2 separate regions of the Homo sapiens genome follow, and region 2 is linked to region 1. The links come from fine-mapping of genetic effects on gene expression. Tissue or cell type: whole blood. Region 1 holds a variant in brackets; the other region holds the start of a gene. All regions are shown on one strand. Distances are between the middles of the regions.

Region 1 (8,342 bases):
CTATCCCAAAACCTATAAGAATTAATCATAATCCCACCACCCTTTGCTGACTCTCTTTTTGGACTCAGCCTGCCTGCACCCAGGTGAAATAAACAGCCTTGTTGCTCACACAAAGCCTGTTTGGTGGTCTCTTCACAGGGACGCGTGTGACACTTAGCTGAACGTGCTGGCACGCACCTGTAGTTCCAACTACTTCGGAGGCTGAGGTGGAAGGATCGCTTGAGCCCAGGAGGTTGAGGCTGCAGTGAGCCACAATCTCACCACTGTACTCAGCCTGGGCGACAGTATGAGAACCCTGTCTCAAAAAAAAAAAAAAAAAAAAAGAAAAAAGAATTGTGTAAGCTGTACCAATTGAGATGTCTATGGTGTTGGCTATTGTTTCTGCTGTTAACTGTAAGTCCTCTTTAATTAAGGCATAAACAAATTTAATTTTTTTCTGCAAAAATTGATGTGGATGGTATGCCACGGTGGGCTTCATCTTCAGCATGACCCAGGCTGGAGTGCAGTGGCGCAATCACGGCTCACTGCAACCTCTACCTCCCAGACTCAAGTGATCCTCCCACCTCAGCCTCCTGAGTAGCTGGAACTACAAGTGTGCACCACCACACCCAGCTAATTTATGTATTTTTTGTACGGATGGGGTTTCACCATGTTACCCAGGCTGGTCTCGAATTCCTGAGCTCCAATGATCCGCTGGCCTCAGCCTCCCAAAGTATTGGGATTACAGGCGTGAACCACCACGCCCGAACTTGTCCCTTCTTAAAACGAGTTATCCATTTGTAAATGGCTGATTTCTCTGGGGCACTGTCAAGTTTTTGGAAAACATCAATGATTTCATCATTCTTCCACCCAAGCTTCACCATCAATTTGATGCTTGTTCTTGCTTCAATTTTAGAATTCGTGTTGCTCTGATAGGGGCTCTTTTCAATCTGATGTTTTATTTTAGTGTCTCAAACTAGGTCCTGTTCAGACAAGTTATAACAAGTTAGTATGAATTTATTTTGGTGCAAAAAAAAAAAATTGAACTCCATGCATAGTTTTTTCATAATACACATTTTCCATGAATTTTTGGAAGACCCTTCTTTTTCTCTCTTTTTTTTTTTTTTTTTTTTTTCTGTAGAGATGGTCTTGTTCTGTCACCCAGGCTGGAGTGCAGTGGCACAATCATGGCTCACTGCAGCCTCGACCTCCTGGGCTCAAGCAATCCTCCCACCTCAGCTTCCTGTTACTGGGACTATAGGTGTGCACCACCACACCTTGATAATTAAAAAAAAAAATTTTTTTGTAGAGATCGGGGTGGGGGGGGGGGTCTCACTATATTTTCCAGGCTGGTCTTGAACTCCTGGCCTCAAGTGACCCTCCCCAATCAGCCTCCCAAAGTGCTGGGATTACAGGCACAAGCCACAGTGCCTGGCCAATAAATGTTTTTTGAATGAATGAAGAAATTAGTGCATGGACATATTTTCCCATCAGCTATTACAATAACCAGACTCTGAGTTCCCTGAAGGCAGGGCCTGTGAGTTTCATTGTGTACCCTCAGCCCTCAATAGCTGATAAAAATAAATATTCAGAAAATGCTTGTAAAATGAAGAAGAGAATATGTATGGGACAGAAAGTAGACCAGTGGTTGCCTGGGGCTGGGACAGGGAATAGGGAGCGACTGCAAATGGGCAGAAGGGATCTTTTCAGAGTGATGGAAATGTTCTTGAATTGGCTGTGATGGCTGCAGAACTGTAAAATCACCCAAAATCAGTAAATCACTTATAATAGGTGAATTTTATGACAGGTAGATTATACCTCAGTAAAGCTGTTAAAACAAAACCAGTGTTGAGGGAGGAAATAAATGTTACCTTGGTAATACTGAGGACTCAGTAGTTATCAAGACAGCTCTCTTCCCTGCCCTCATGAGGTTTTCTGTGCAGGGCGGGGACGCCGACCCATTATAGACAGTGACAGCCTAGAGCCATCACGGCGGGATGGTGGGGAGGGGACAGGCAGAGGGGTGGGAGGCCAGGATGGGGGAAGCCCGGGCAGAGAGGTTGGGCTGGAATGGGGGGCACAGGCAGAGGGGTCGGGGCGGGGACTGGTGAGGTGCAGGCAGAGGGCAAAGGGGTCGAGGTCCAGATGGGAGATGTACAGGCAGACGGATCCGGGCCAGGGCGGGGAGGTACAGGCCCAGTTGAGGAGCATAAGGAACCATAGGAGCCCAAAGGAGGCGCCCGACCAGTCAGGGAGGACTTCCCAGAGGGGTGAATGGCTGAGCCAGGGCCTGAAGTATAATGTTCATGAATGCGACAGCAATTTTTTTTTTTTTGAGACCGAGTCTCCCTCTATCACTGGAGTGCAGTGGCTCGATTTCGGCTCACTACAACCTCCACCTACCGGGTTCAAGCGATTCTCCTGCCTCAGCCTCCCGGGTAGCTGGGACTACAGGCGCCCGCCCCCACGTCCGGCTAATGTTTGCATTTTTAGTCGAGACGGGGTTTCGCCATTTTGGCCAGGCTGGTCTTGAACCCCTGACCTCAGGTAATGCACCTGCCTCGGCCTCCCAAAGTGCTGGGATTACAGGCGTGAGCCACCGCGCCCAGCACAATTTTAATTTTTCTTAAACACTTTTCCTGCCTTAGCAAAGTCTTGGAGGGGCGGCCGCCCAGGCGCCGCGAGCGCAAGACCACGAGGGGGCGCTGCTTCACCACGCTAGAGGAGCGCTCCCGGCAACCACGTGGCCCCACAGGTGCGGGAGGTCGGCGAGCGCGCCTGGAGGGTGGACGGGGTAGGTTACGGCCAGGCAGCCCGGGGTGGCGCGTGGCCCTGCGCAGGGCAGTGGAAGCAGCGGGCCCCAGGGAGCATGAGACGCCGCGCTCCGTGGGGCGGTCCCAGCGCTGTGCAGCGAGGGGCCAGGGCTGTCCCCGGTCCTGCGCGGCCGGCTCCCGGAGAAACTGTGGCCTCCTGGGGGTGGAGCTTTAAAAAACAAAACAAAACAAAACAAAATCACCCAACAGGAAGCGGGGTGGGGGCGCCCGGCTCTGTCACCCGTGGAATGCATCAAAATAGCCTGCGCGGCCGGGGGCGGTTCCGGGAAAGGGGGCGGCCGCGAGGGGCGGGGCTGCAACGGAGGGCGGAGCTTCCCAAAGAACGGGAGAGAGGAGTGCAGAACCGGCCCCAGGGGGACGTCCTCCTGTTCCCCCAAAATGACCTCGATAGGCGTTTGTGTGGGATGGGGTTCCTGGGTAGGGCGGGGCTTTCCAGTGCGATGTCCCTGGTCTATTCTTAGCGGGCTGAAACCTGGAGAAGTGGGAGTGGGCGGTTGATCCGGGTTCCAGGGCCTCTTTGGAGCGAAAAGCTCCGTGGAGAGCCAGAGTCTCCATCCTGGGCGTGGGAGGGAAGATGGGAAATGGGCCAAGAGGAGCCTGTGGGAGGTCCTCCCCGGGACGGCCCCCTTCCATCTGCATCCGCGGGAACCGTTGTGGGGGCAGCTCTGAGAAAGGCTGCTCTGGGCGCAAGGAAGGGTGGTTGAACGAAGAGATCAGTCAGGGACGGGGTGGGGGTGCCTTGACTGTGTCCCAGATTTGCTGCGTGCTTCTGACCTCAGTTCCCCATCCTTCCAGTTGCTCAAATCCTCTCTGTCCCAGTCCTAGGCCGTTTCTGCCCCTCTCACTTCCTAGTGGTTTGCAGAGGGGAAACACTGAGGCTGCCTCTTCTGTGCCTGGCCCTGTGTTGGCACGGGGAAGTGACTGAGACGCCCCAGACCCCCTTCTCCCTCACAGTCCAGTGAGGCAGACAGACCTGCCACCAGATAGTGACAGCCCAGAATGAGTCATTGAGAGGACGGGGGAGGCACAGGCAGATGGGTCAGGGCTGGGATAGGGGAGGAGAGGGGCCTGTAGGATCCAAGGGGAGAGTGGGTGCTGCTGACTCAGTCTGGGGGGGTTGAAGAGCCGTCTGAACTTAGACCAAAAAGGTAGGATGGGGCCGGGCGCCTGTTATCCCAGCACTTTGGGAGGCAGAGACAAGAGGATCGCTTGAGGCCAGGAGTTCCAGACCAGATTGGACAACATAGCGAGACCCCCATCTCTACAAAATAATTTAAAAATCAGTTGGGCATAGTGGTGTACGCCTATAGTCCCAGCTACTCAGGAGGCTGAGGTGGGAAGATTGGTTGAGCCCAGGAATTCAAGGCTGCAATGAGCTATGATTGCCCCACTGCAGTCCAGCCCGGGTGACAGCGTGAGACCCCTGCCTCCAAAATAATAATAGCAAAAATACTGGGCTGGGCGCGGCGGCTCACACCTGTAATCCCAACACTTTGGGAAGCCGAGGTGGGCAAATCGCTGAGGTCAGGAGTTCCAGACCAGCCTGGCCAACATGGTGAAACCCAGTCTCTACTAAAAATACAAAAATTAGCTAG[G/A]TGTGGTGGCAAGGCATCTGTAGTTCCAGCTACTTGGGAGGCTGAGGCAGGAGAATCGCTTGAGCCCAGGAGGTGGAGGCTGCAATGAGATCACACCACTGCACTCCAGCCTGGGCGACAGAGTGAGACTCTGTCTCAAAAAATAAATAAATCCTAATGAAAGGATAGGATGGGGCTCAGGGCCTTGGAAGAGGGTCACCTTCTAACAAAAGGTATTTGAACGGAGTCCTAAAGAATGAGTAGCATTCTTCTGGGAAGTGCTGTGTCACCATGAAGGAAAGGGTGTTCTAGGCAGAAAGAATGACAAATGCAAAAGCTTGGAGGTGAGAGTGTGGCTTATCTCTGGCAGGGTCCTCTGCTCCCTGCCTGGGACATTCCCCCAACGTCATACCCCGACAGAGCTGTCTTAGGTCTCCTAGTCCTGGAGTCCACAAGCAGGTTAATGGGATGTAATGGAAACGCTATAGAGGGCAGACCCCTAGGCTTGTTCCCTCACAGCCTGATGCTTTTTTGTTTTTGAGACAGAGTCTCGCTCTGTTGCCCAGGCTGGAGTGCAGTGGCGTGATCTTGGCTCACTGCAACCTTGGCCTCCCAGGTTCAAGCGATTGTCCTGCCTCAGCTTCCCAAGTAGCTGAGATTACAGGCACCCACCACCACGCCTGGCTAAGTTTTGTATTTTTAGTAGAGACGGAGTTTCACCATGTTGGCCAGGCTAGTCTCGAACTCCCAACCTCAGGTAATCCACTTGCCTCGGCTTCCCAAAGTGCTGGGATTAAAGGCATGAGCCACCACGCCCAGCCTTTTGTTTTGTCTGCTTTTTTAGACAGGGTCTCACGCTGTCACCCTCACAGGCTGGAGTGCAGTGACTGCATCACGGACCACTGCAGCCTGGACCTCCCAGGCTCAAGCAATCCTCCCACCTCAACCTCTCCAGCAGCTGGGACTACAGGCGTATGCCACCACGCCCACCTAATTTTAAAATTATTTTGTAGAGACAGGGTCTCATTATGTTGCCCAGGCTGGCCTCGAACTCCTGGGCTCAAGCGATCCTCCCACCTTGGCCTCCCGAAGTGCTGGGCTTACAGGTGAGAGCCACCTCAGTGCCCGGCCTCAGCCTGATGGTTTCACGACTGCCTTTGACTTTGGCCCACACTAATCAAATGTATCACCGTGGGCCACTGACTCAACTTCCCCATCTATCCAGTGGGAATAGAATATTGGACTGCACAAAATCAACCACCTCATTTTAAAGAGCTATAACGAAACAAAATTTATATGTTATATATTTTTAAAAATACATCTTATAGATTAAAGGACTCAAGAAACAATAGCAAGACTGTAAAACGTTGCCACATCAGGTGACACTTTGGCCAGAGTTATGGAAAATGCTGACAAAACAAGAATTTGCCAGCATGGGCAAAGATATACTGTTACCAACCCAACTTGTTAAAATATTAATATTGAGCTAATTAGAAGTAGTTTTTTTTTTTTTGTTTTTTTTTTTTGAGACAGAGTCTCATTCTGTTGCCCAGGCAGGAGTGCAATGGTGTGACCTCAGGTCACTGCAACCTCTGCTGCCTGGGTTCAAGCGATTCTTGTGCCTCAGCCTCCTGGAATTACAGGCGCCTGCCACCACGCCCGGCTAATTTTTGAATTTTTGGTAGAGACTGGGTTTCTCCATGGCGGCCAGGCTGGTCTCGAACTCCTGACCTTAAGTGATCTGCCTGCCTCGACCTCCCAAAGTGCTGGGATTACAGGCGTGAGCCACTGTGCCCAGCCAGCAGTTCATAATATTTGTTTTTTATTCCTTGATTCTAACTCTGTAAGGAATAGAAATGGGGTGATTAATTTTGGCTCCTTTAATACCCGCCTGGCAGGTGCTGAGTCAGTGGTACCTGTTACCACGCTATGACTCAGAGGTTATCACTCAGGGACATCCTTCTGACTCTGTTTCAGTCCATGACTCAGGAGGAAAGGTTCTAGGGCCTCACCAGCGCCCTACACACACCCTCGTTTCCCGAGGGGCACCATTATATTCTTCCTTTATTGGCTGTCCTTGTATAATACAAATCTTCAAGTTTAGATACAAAAAAAATCTGGAAATAAAAGATAGAAAAGTACCCGCCAGGCACCCCTTCCCCTTCTTCCCGGACCCCTCCCCAGCGGGCACCGACATGAGGTAACTGCGCATCTTCTCCTCCTCCTCCCTCCCCGCCTCCTGGGCCCCCAACTTGGCCCTAGCCCCCATGAGACCTTGGCCCAAGGAAGACATGGGCCCCAAAGTTGGAGGGTGATGGAGGTGAGTACAGCATTGGCAGTGAACGCAGCGTGTGGGCAGAGGGCAGCCCTTAGCTTGTGCTGTGCATGGGGGGAGGAGACGACCAGATTTGGGGTGGGCACTGGTGTGGGGCCCAGGAGAGCCCCTAAGCAAGTGTCCCCCCTCCATCCTGTCCAACACTGGAAGGTGGGGGTCAACAGAAACTGGGAAATGGAGTGTGAACCAAGGGCATTCAGTGGGATTGTGGCCAACCCCTGTGTCTGGGGTTGGGGAAGGGGGCATTGCCAGCCTAAGTCCGGCAGTGAAATGGTTCCCTTAGCCAGGCTGGGTCCGTCCCTGAATTCCATCCTGTTGCAACCTGGGCGTCACAATGTTGGTTCTGTAGTGGTTGTCGGGGTGGTTGAGGGAGGGGGGTGTTGAGAGGGTGTTGAGGGGCGCAGCCCCAGGGAGCAGGGTTAGGGGAGAGGTTGTGCCTCCACCCCCAGGCGTGGGGCACCTGGAGATGATGGAGTGGGTGGGGCGGCTCGGGCTACAGTTCAATCTCGAATGTCTTTTGCAGGTCGCCAGAAAAGGGGTTGGAGGGTTTCTCTACAGTGGCTTTGCCTTCTAATGCCGCCCACTGGGCCTCAAAGGGGTCCAACTCTGGAGCTGGGGCAGGCGCTGGCTCAGGGGGCCAGGGGGCCCCATTGGGGCGAGGGCGGGCCTGGCTCCCAGGGGCACTGGGTATGGCAGGGGGCGGGAAGGCCCCAGCTTTCCCAAGCAGAGTGGCAGGCTGAGGCTGGAGCTGGGCGGCTGAGCAGAAGGCGTTTGCCACCATCTGTGAGGGTGTGATGCCCACCACGGGCACCCGGGGCATCGGTGGGTAGCCCAAGCCCGGGTAGGCGGGCACAAAAGGGGGCTGCATGTGTGGGGGTGGCAGGAACACGGCCACTTGGGCAGGTGCAGCGTCAAAGGGCCCCACGGGGGCGGGGAAAGGCTGCAGGGCAGGAGGCATGGTGGGCACTGGGGCCACTGAGGCTGCTTGCTGCTGTTGCTGCTGCTGCTGCTGCTGCTGTTGCTGTTGCTGCTGCTGCTGCTGCTGGGCCTTGGCCACCTGTGACACCTCCTCCAGCCATCGCTCAGCCTCTGAAGGTGTCCGCTTGTGCCCAGGCTGGAAGGCAGCTGCAGGGGGCACGGAGGGCTCACCCCAGGCAGAAGTCCCTGGAGAGAGGAGAGGGACAGGTGAGGGAGGGGGCAACGGCTTCAGCAGAAGAACCCCAGGCTGGGAACTGGCATGGTGTGGGGATCAGAGCACGGACTCTGGAGCCAGACCGCCTGCCTCTGAATCCCAGCTCTGCACCTCCCGAGCTTGCTGACTTCAGGCGAGTGACTTCACCATTCTGGACCACGTAATGGTTCTGGAGTGCTAAGAACATACAATTCTGAGCTTCTAAGGCCCTATGATGAGAAAGTCTAAGTAGGACTGACATCCTCCTAGCCCCACTACCCTTCTGACTGGTCAGTGCCAAGCCTAGGATTCACTATTTTGTTTTGTTTGTTGTCTGTTCGTTTTGAGAGTCTCACTCTGTTGCCCAGGGATGCCCTATCTGGGCTCACTGCAACCTCTGCCTCCCAGGTTCAAGCAATTCTCGTGCCTCAGTCTCCTGAGTAGCTGGG
Region 2 (8,000 bases), 25 kb after region 1:
TGTCGTCTTTCAAAGGGTGTGTCCATGGCTGTTATCCATGTAGCTATGTCTCTGTGTGAAGGTGTGGCTATTGTCTGTGATGACATTGCCTCGGAGAGTGCATCTGAGGGATCTACAAGACTGTCTGTGTCCAAGAGTGCAGCTGTTGGCGGTGAGCCTGTGTGACTGTGGCTGTTGCCTTAGAGTGTGGGTGTGTGGGTATTGCACAGAGGGTGTATCTGTGTGCAGTGGTGCATCCGTTAGGGTGTGTGGGAACATGAGGTTGTCTTTGAGAGTGTTTTCATGAGGGTTATTTGTAAGGGTGTGACTGTTGCCTGAGAGAGTGCTGGGTGTTCTTTGTGAGACTGTGTGCATGTTTGTACACAACCGTAGCTCCCTGTGAGAGCCTGGGCCCGCGGGTGCTGTCTGTGAAAGTGTGGCTGTCGTCTGTAGAAATGTGGGTCTGTGTGTGTTGTCAGACTGTGCAAGAGTGTGTCTCTTTTTTTTTTTTTTGAGACGAAATTTTGCTCTTGTTGCGAATGAAGGCTGGAGTGCAATGGCATGATCTCAGCTCACAGCAACCTCTGCCTCCCAGGTTCAAGCGATTCTCCTGCCTCAGCCTCCCAAGTAGCTGGGATTACAGGCATGTGCCACCACCCCTGGCTAATTTTGTATTTTTAGTACAGACAGAGTTTCTCCATGTTGGTCAGGCTGGTCTCGAACTCCTGACCTCCTGACCTCAGGTGATCCTCCCGCCTCAGCCTCCCAAAGTGCTGGGATTATAGGCATTGAGCCACCACGCCCGGCCAAGAGTGTGTCTCTTGAGAGTGTGTATCTCAGAGTCTGTATCCAGCGAGCGTCTGTGGTCACCTGTGAATCTGGGTGTTGTCTAGGAATGTGTGTGTGTGTATATATGTGTGTACATTAGTGTGATGAACATCTACTTCAGCATGTGTTCAAGTGTGTCACTGCATTAGCAAGTGTGTGTGATCTGAAAGAGATCTGTGTGTGTGTGTGTGTCTCTAACCGTATATCTACAGATGTGAGTGTTTGTGACTCTGCACTTGAGGCTGTAAGGGTGTCAGGGTGTGGGTCTGTGCATGAGTGGGGCTCTGACAGTCGCTGAGGAAGATGCCTGAGGGTGTCCACTCATGAGTGTGATTAAGCCTGTGTGACCGCAGGGACAGCTCCTCTGGTCGTGTTAGGCAAGACCACATACCCATTCAGCCCTGCCCTGTCCCAGGCTGGTCGCTCACCTGGCTCCGTCCTGCAGGTTTCTGGGGGCCCCGGGGCCCCACAGGGGGCTGGGGGCAGGTGCCGCTCAGGCCTCCGGGGTCCGCCCTGCCCGAGTAGGGGAGGAGAAGGTGAGAAGTTTGTCTGGGTTGGGGCTCAGTCTGATACTTCACCCCGACTTTGGACTTCGGCCAGCCCCCTCCATCTTGGGCTCCCTGATGAGAGTCCTAGTTGTCCTAGCAACTGTTACCAGGGAGATCAGCCACCTGGTTCCAAGGGCCCAGGAAGGAGTAGGTATGTTTGGGGGGCATATGTTGGGGATGTGCTGGCCTCAGGAGAGCCTCACTGCCCAAGGGGATGCTGTGAGAGTGGCCTTGCCCTCCAGATGCATGTGCAGGGCTACACACATACGCAGCCAACTCATATCTACAGGTGTCCCTAGCATCTGGCCACAGCTTTACACACTTGGTTACACATAGACGCAATCACAGCTACACACCTCAGATCGCAGATACACAGAAACAGTCCCAAACCCAGAAAGCTGCCACTGTAAACATCTGGCCGCATATTCATGTTCGGACACACACAGTCTCTACTACAGACATTTGTCCACATACATGCAGCATGTCCTGGCCCACTCAGTTCCCACCGCAGACACCTGGTCACACCACCCACTGAAATTTGGTCACTTCCACATTCTCAGCCACATACAAAGAACGGGGCCCAGACAACCCACTAGAGCCGCACATGCGTGGCCACACCCAGTGACAGCTATGTTTCCTCAGGCACCCGCCCAAGATACTGACGTCACAGGCCCACCCAGATAGAATCACACCCAGAGTTCACCCATTTGCTGACCCAGTCCCACACGACACAATCGCAGCTATATACACTTGTTACACGTATCTCCACTGCTGCACACTGACATCTGGTCACAGATGCACACGGACAGACACACATTTGGTCCCACGGAGACCACATGCAGCCTCAACCAGACCAGTCACACCAACACACTGTTTTTGGCCACACACTGTCACGTGGTCACACATACTCAGTCATAGGTGCTCAAATCTGGTCACAGCATCAGTCACACAGTCTATTGTGACAGCCACACTCATAGGGACAGTCCTCTATACACAACCACATACAGAGGTACTGATGGCCACAGCATGCAACCACCCACAAACAACTGTCCCCAAGGATGGCCTCCCTCAAGACACAGCCATGGTGGTCCTATAGGCATGGCCACAGCATCAATGTCCATGTGACCCAGCCACCTATCATGGTCATAATCCCGTCACCCAGTGTCCATACACAGCTGTACCATGTCACTCCAATGCAGCGAAACATATAGCCTTTCTTCATGCAGGCACACAAGTCACACAGACAAGTATGTGGCCATATAGAATCACAGCCCCGTGTGGACAGGTGCACAAAGTCACAAGCCCCACCTACACACATATCTCACACATAGAGACATAAGCACACAGTTTTAGTTTCCCATGTCACAAGTACACAGTCCAGTGTATGCACATAAATGCAGTGACCAGGATGTGGCATTTATAGCTGGGTTTACACAGAAGACACAGGTCCTGACGGAGCCATGTGCACAGTCAGGGGCCAATCTCATCACCAAATCACACATTCTAACACAGGTAGTCCAGCACATACACACAGAGACAAAAACAGGCACACAGCTACAGACCCCACACTCTCACAGATGATGACATAGACACAGACATCTATAGTCACCCAGGGTCAGACATGCAGGTCAAACACAATAATATGGAAGCCATAATCATATACACACCCCTACAAACATAATTTCCTGGCACCAGCACGGAGACACATCCACAGCTTTAGTCACACACAAATAATCCCTCTAAATAGCCAGGGTTTCAGACACCAAGTCAAATACATAACCCAAATCACACATGCAAGGCTAGAAATACACACAATCACTCGTTATCACACACACTGCTAGATACAGTCATTTATATTAATACAACCTCAGTCACACACTCAGACATGGTTCTGCATACGCAACCACTGTCATACACAATACTGTCACACAACCCCAGTCACACAGATACAATGTGACTTCAGACACAATGGCAGTCACACAGGCAGAGTTGCACAGACAGGTGTGTGTCACTCACGTATATAAAATCAGGTAGAGACACAACTATAAACATTGTCAGTCACTGGGAGGGTCACACATGCACATGGAGCCATAGACAACTCCACTCACACACAGTCACAACTCCACCCACGTCCTGTCAGTCACACGCATGCCCACCCCCAGACTCAACACATACTGTCACATACCCAGTTATAGTTACCGAGGCATACAAACACAGGGTCACAAAAGACACAATCACAGACAACCACAGTCACAACCATGCACACCTCCAAACACAGACAGACTAAAAAGTACAGGATTCTGCACAGTGAGCAGCTGTCACACACACATACACAGTCACACAGATACTAGGGTCACAGACACAATCATAGACACCACCACAAGCACACACACACGACACAGGATTCCTCAGTCACCAGCTGCAGCGTACGCGTGCACACACACACACACATACACAGCCACAGTCACACAAACACAGGGCACACTCCTAGCCACCTCCCCATCGCTTGCTTCCCCCCTTCCCCCCAGGTACCACACACAAAGCCGCCGTCACCGTCACCGCAGACACTGCAGACAGACAGGGCTGCACCCGGTCCCTGGGGAGCCGCCCCCAGCCCAGCCTGTATCCTGGAGCCTGAGGGCCAGGTCCAGGAGGGGGAAGCGGTGCATTGTCTGCGGGTGGGGCCACTCTTGGACAGCTGGGCAGCCCTGGGGACAAAGGGGGTGGCCTAGGGATCCTGTGCCCTGGGACCCATGACCAAGCCAGGGGGTGGAGGGATTGGGGGTTGCCTGAAATTGTCCTTATTTTATTCAGGCTGGGGTGGGGTGGAGTCCCAGGCACAGGGACCTTGTTTTGAGAAGTGGCTGTGCCTGGGACTCCGCCCAAGGATTGGGGGGATGCTGTGCCCAGGGTGCCTCTGAGACCTGGGGGCAGGCTGTGCTTGGAGTCCCCCTAGGCCTTGGCGTGGTGGGAACGCTGTACCCAGTGACCCCATCCTCGAGACCGTACCTAGGCAGTTGTTGTGCTGAGACCCCCTTAGGCAGGGAGAGGTAGGGATTGTGTCTGGAATCGCGTCCTGGAGGCCTTGGTTTGATACGGGGGCTGTGTCCCCGACCCCATCTCCATCCCCATCTAGTTCTAGGAGTTGTACCTAGAATCTCTGTACCCCTGTCCTTGGTTTTGTGGGGGGTCTGTGTCCAGGATCCCTATTTCCAGGGCCTTGGCAAGAGATGGCCCAGGGGTCTGTGCCCAAGACCCCGGTCTCCTGGGCTTTGGCTTGTTGGGCCTGTTCCTGGACCCCCACCCGGGACCACCCTCTCCAGCCTTGGCACCCTCTCTCCATCCGGGCGCCGCGGCCGCCTCCCACCCTCCGCCACATCAGCAGCGGCGCCGCCCCCGACCCGAGCCCCCCTCTCCCGCCCTTCTCACGCTGGCCGCCGCGCTGCGGGACATCCAGGGCCCGGGCGCCCCCGCCTCCCGCGGCCCTGGCTGGGCCTGGCTCCCCGACTGCTGCTGCTGCGGTGGTGGCGGCGGCAGCTCGGTCTGACGCCGGCCAGGGCCCGGGGCCGGGGGATGGTGCGGGATGCACGCGCGCGAGCCTCCTCGGCTCCCGGGAGGATTCCGTTCCGGGGGCGGGGGAGCGTCCCTCGGCCTCGGCTCCCCGCCCCGACCCCGCCCATTGGCCCGCCGCCTGCCGTATATGCAGAAAGGTCCCGCCCCGCCCCGCCCCTTGGCCTGAAGACCCCGCCCACACGCAGACACCATCCCGCCTTCCCCGGCGCGGCCACCGCCCCGCCACGCCCATTGGCCAGTCCCGAGCTGAGCATGCCTATGAACATCGCCGAGTCCTTTCCCCCGGTCCGTCCTGGCCTGGGCTCCCTTTCCCTCCGTGACACCTGACCTCAGATCCCCTCCAGCTCCGCGTCCGAAAGAGTTGCTTCTAGAGGCGCCTTGCCGCCCCACACCCCCAAATCTTCCCGCTAACCCCATGGTTCCCCAGCCCGGCGGGGGCGGGCAGGAGCGGTGACGAGGCACTTTTTGCAAGGAAGGGGAGGGGGTGTGAACAGACCAAGGCGTCCTGATGCGCGATCGGTTCGGCTTTGGGAACGGGGGCGCCGGGGTGGGACCAGGGCGCGGTTCTGGCCGCTACGGCGCCCCCGCCGCCCCCTACGCCAATCCTGTGGGTTTGGCAAAGCAGCTGGCAGGGACATTAGAGCCCATTAGTAAAGGCGAGGTTGCCAGGAGTGAGGGGAGGGAGCCCGCAGCCAAGAGGCACTGTGTGTGTGGGAGGCCTCAGCTGCCACAGCCCTTAGAGCAGGTGGTCAGCACGTGGGGGGGGGTGGGGAAGGCGAGAAGGAGGTTCCCGGCAACAGATGGCACAGGCAGGGCTGAGGCTTTCAGACAAGGGGGTGCAGGGGGGCTGGCCATCTGCACCTGGAGGCCGCTGGCGAGCTCCTCCCCCTCTCCCCCCAACCCTAGCGCAGAGAAAAGAGCTGGGGGAAGGGGAGGGCTGCTTTTATTCCGATTGAAGATTCAGCTCCCCCCCACCCCGCACCCCTACCTCTCCAACACACTGAGAGGCTGGAACCCGGGAGAAGGCAGCTGTTGGAGGAGCGAGGGAGGCAGAGGTGAGGACTGCCTCCAGGACCATCTCGCCTTCCACGGGAGGCTTGAGGCAGAGGTGAGGGCTCCCCCTGATGAGTCTGATCTGCATAACGACATGCAGCGGCCCAAGGCTCCCTCAAATGTTGGCAAAGATAAGTTAACCGCTTCCCTGGCTTAGTTTTCGGATACCCACTTTCGAGTGGGGAGGTGCAGGATCTAGGGCACGAAGTTGGGAGTTCCCCAGCCCCAGGGATCCTGAGCTCCTGGGCCAAGGAGGAGAGCCAGGCAAGACTGGGAAGCCCAAGGGGGCTCCTCTGACCCAGGGCAGACGGGGAAGGGATAAGAGGCACTACAGCAGGGTACGGCCTGCTCTGGGGACTGAATCCCCCATGGAGGCTGTCATGAGGGATCCACCCAGGAGTCCCCTTTGGTGGGGAGGCTGCCGGCAGTGGCTGCGTCTGGCTGGCGACTGGCCCAGTAGCGGTGGTAGGTGTCCTGGAAGAGGTCCCTGCAGGCGATGTGGGCTCGGAGGTGGGCACAGGCCAGGAAAGCCCCTGCCAGCTTGCGGTGCAGGGCATAGGTCTCCTCGGGTGGGGGACACAGCCGGTGCCGCAGCAGCACCGGGATGAGGTCCTGTATGCGGCGGGCCGTTTCCCCCGACCCAAAGTCATAAGGGCCCTGGGTGGCGAAAGGCTCCCCCAGGATCATCACTGCCTCCACGTGGGCGTCGGAGAATGCCTGGGAGTGGGGGTGGGGGGAGAGCAAAGGCAGCCAGTGTGGACATAGAGCCCTCTGCATAACCCAGAAACAACGTGTAGCCTCCACTCCCTCCAGTCTCCACCATCAACACAAGCCCCGACTCCCCCAAGAGTGAGCAGCTTCCACTCCTTCCAGAGCCTGGACTAGACAAGCAGCTGCCTATTCCCCGAGTAAGCACCCCTTACTTCCCTGCAGAGCCTCCAACAGACAAGTAGCCCTCTACTCTCTCTACAACAGAGAAGCGGCCTTCGCCCCTCCTGAACAGATCCACGGTGCCCATGTTCCCAGGGTTCCTGAGAAGTCAGGCAGCCACCTCCCCCCACTCCTCCCCAAAGCCCCCAGCATGGATAAGCATCCCTCCTAGAGTCACCCACTCCCCAGGTATAGACACACAGCCTCCATTCTCCCTAGTGGAGACAAGCCCCTCCTAGAGTCCCCCAGTCCCCGGGTATCGACATGCCCCATCACCTACTCGAGTTCCTCAGTGGAGATAAGCAGCCCCCCACTGCACCCCACCAACAGACACCAGCCCCTTTCTCCCCCAGTGTCTCCCCACCTTGGTTTCAAAGCCTGTGAGGAATTTGAGGTCCCTGGACTTCTGCAGGACACAGTCTCTGTCTCCATCAGCTGCAGCCTTCACCACCTGGGGAGACGGGTGGGAGTTAGAGGGACAAAGGCCGGGGCTCAAGGGGGCTCTGGAGAAGAGGAGCTGGAAGCCTGGGCCTCCCATGTACCCACCTCCATTCTCATCTGCCTGGGCCCTCCCTCACCTGGAAGCTTCCTGCTCCCAACTTTGCCTGTCTGTGACTCCCTTAAAGACTCTTCCAGAGCCTGGGAGTGGAGGTGGTTAGGGATCCTGCCCACCTAGAGGGCAATGTGGGGCCTGCCCGGGAACTGCCACAGTGAAACAGTGCAAGAAACAAGTGTCAGGGCTGCTGGTGAGTCCAAACACTCAACTGGACGGGTATGAGCGTGACCCAGAACTGCATCCAAAGTTGCCAGGGGCCATCTCTCTGTCTCCCACACTGGACTTTGAGCCCCGTGAGAGCAAGGATCCCAGTTGGGTTTAGTCGCACGGGGCACAGGGTCTGGTGCTGAGGAGGCCCTGGGTGAACCTTGCTTTAGCAAATGAGCGTGTGGAGCAGAGCAGCTCTCCAGCCATGAGCTCACACACACAGGGCAGGAGTTGTGGGCATGGAGAGATGCCCAGCTGGGGCCAGCTGGCTAGGGTTCCGTCCCAGCTCTGCCACCTGCCGGCCTGTTGGGCCTCCACTTTCTCAT

The links. PIP is the estimated chance that this variant, and not a neighbour inherited with it, causes the effect.
Region 2: it holds the start of NUMBL, and the variant in region 1 is fine-mapped to the expression of NUMBL in whole blood (TOPMed, PIP above 0.99).

The regions. Positions count from the first base shown.
Region 1 is chr19:40,660,253-40,668,594 of GRCh38, forward strand. NUMBL (NUMB like endocytic adaptor protein) reads right to left here. Exons shown (of 10, transcript NM_004756.5): 10 at 5,653-7,886. The coding sequence ends at 7,216. Among named protein-coding and RNA genes, the nearest start is that of NUMBL, 26 kb to the right of the region's middle. RefSeq lists a silencer at 2,666-2,945. The variant G/A (reference allele first, on the strand shown) is at 4,409.
Region 2 is chr19:40,685,676-40,693,675 of GRCh38, forward strand. NUMBL (NUMB like endocytic adaptor protein) reads right to left here and starts at 4,976. Exons shown (of 10, transcript NM_004756.5): 1 at 4,785-4,976; 2 at 1,236-1,320. The coding sequence starts at 4,808. It overlaps COQ8B (coenzyme Q8B), which reads right to left. Exons shown (of 15, transcript NM_024876.4): 14 at 7,276-7,362; 15 at 5,855-6,698. The coding sequence ends at 6,360. RefSeq lists enhancers at 1,849-2,143, 3,267-4,206, 3,880-3,929, 5,145-6,082 and silencers at 4,769-5,108, 5,429-5,668.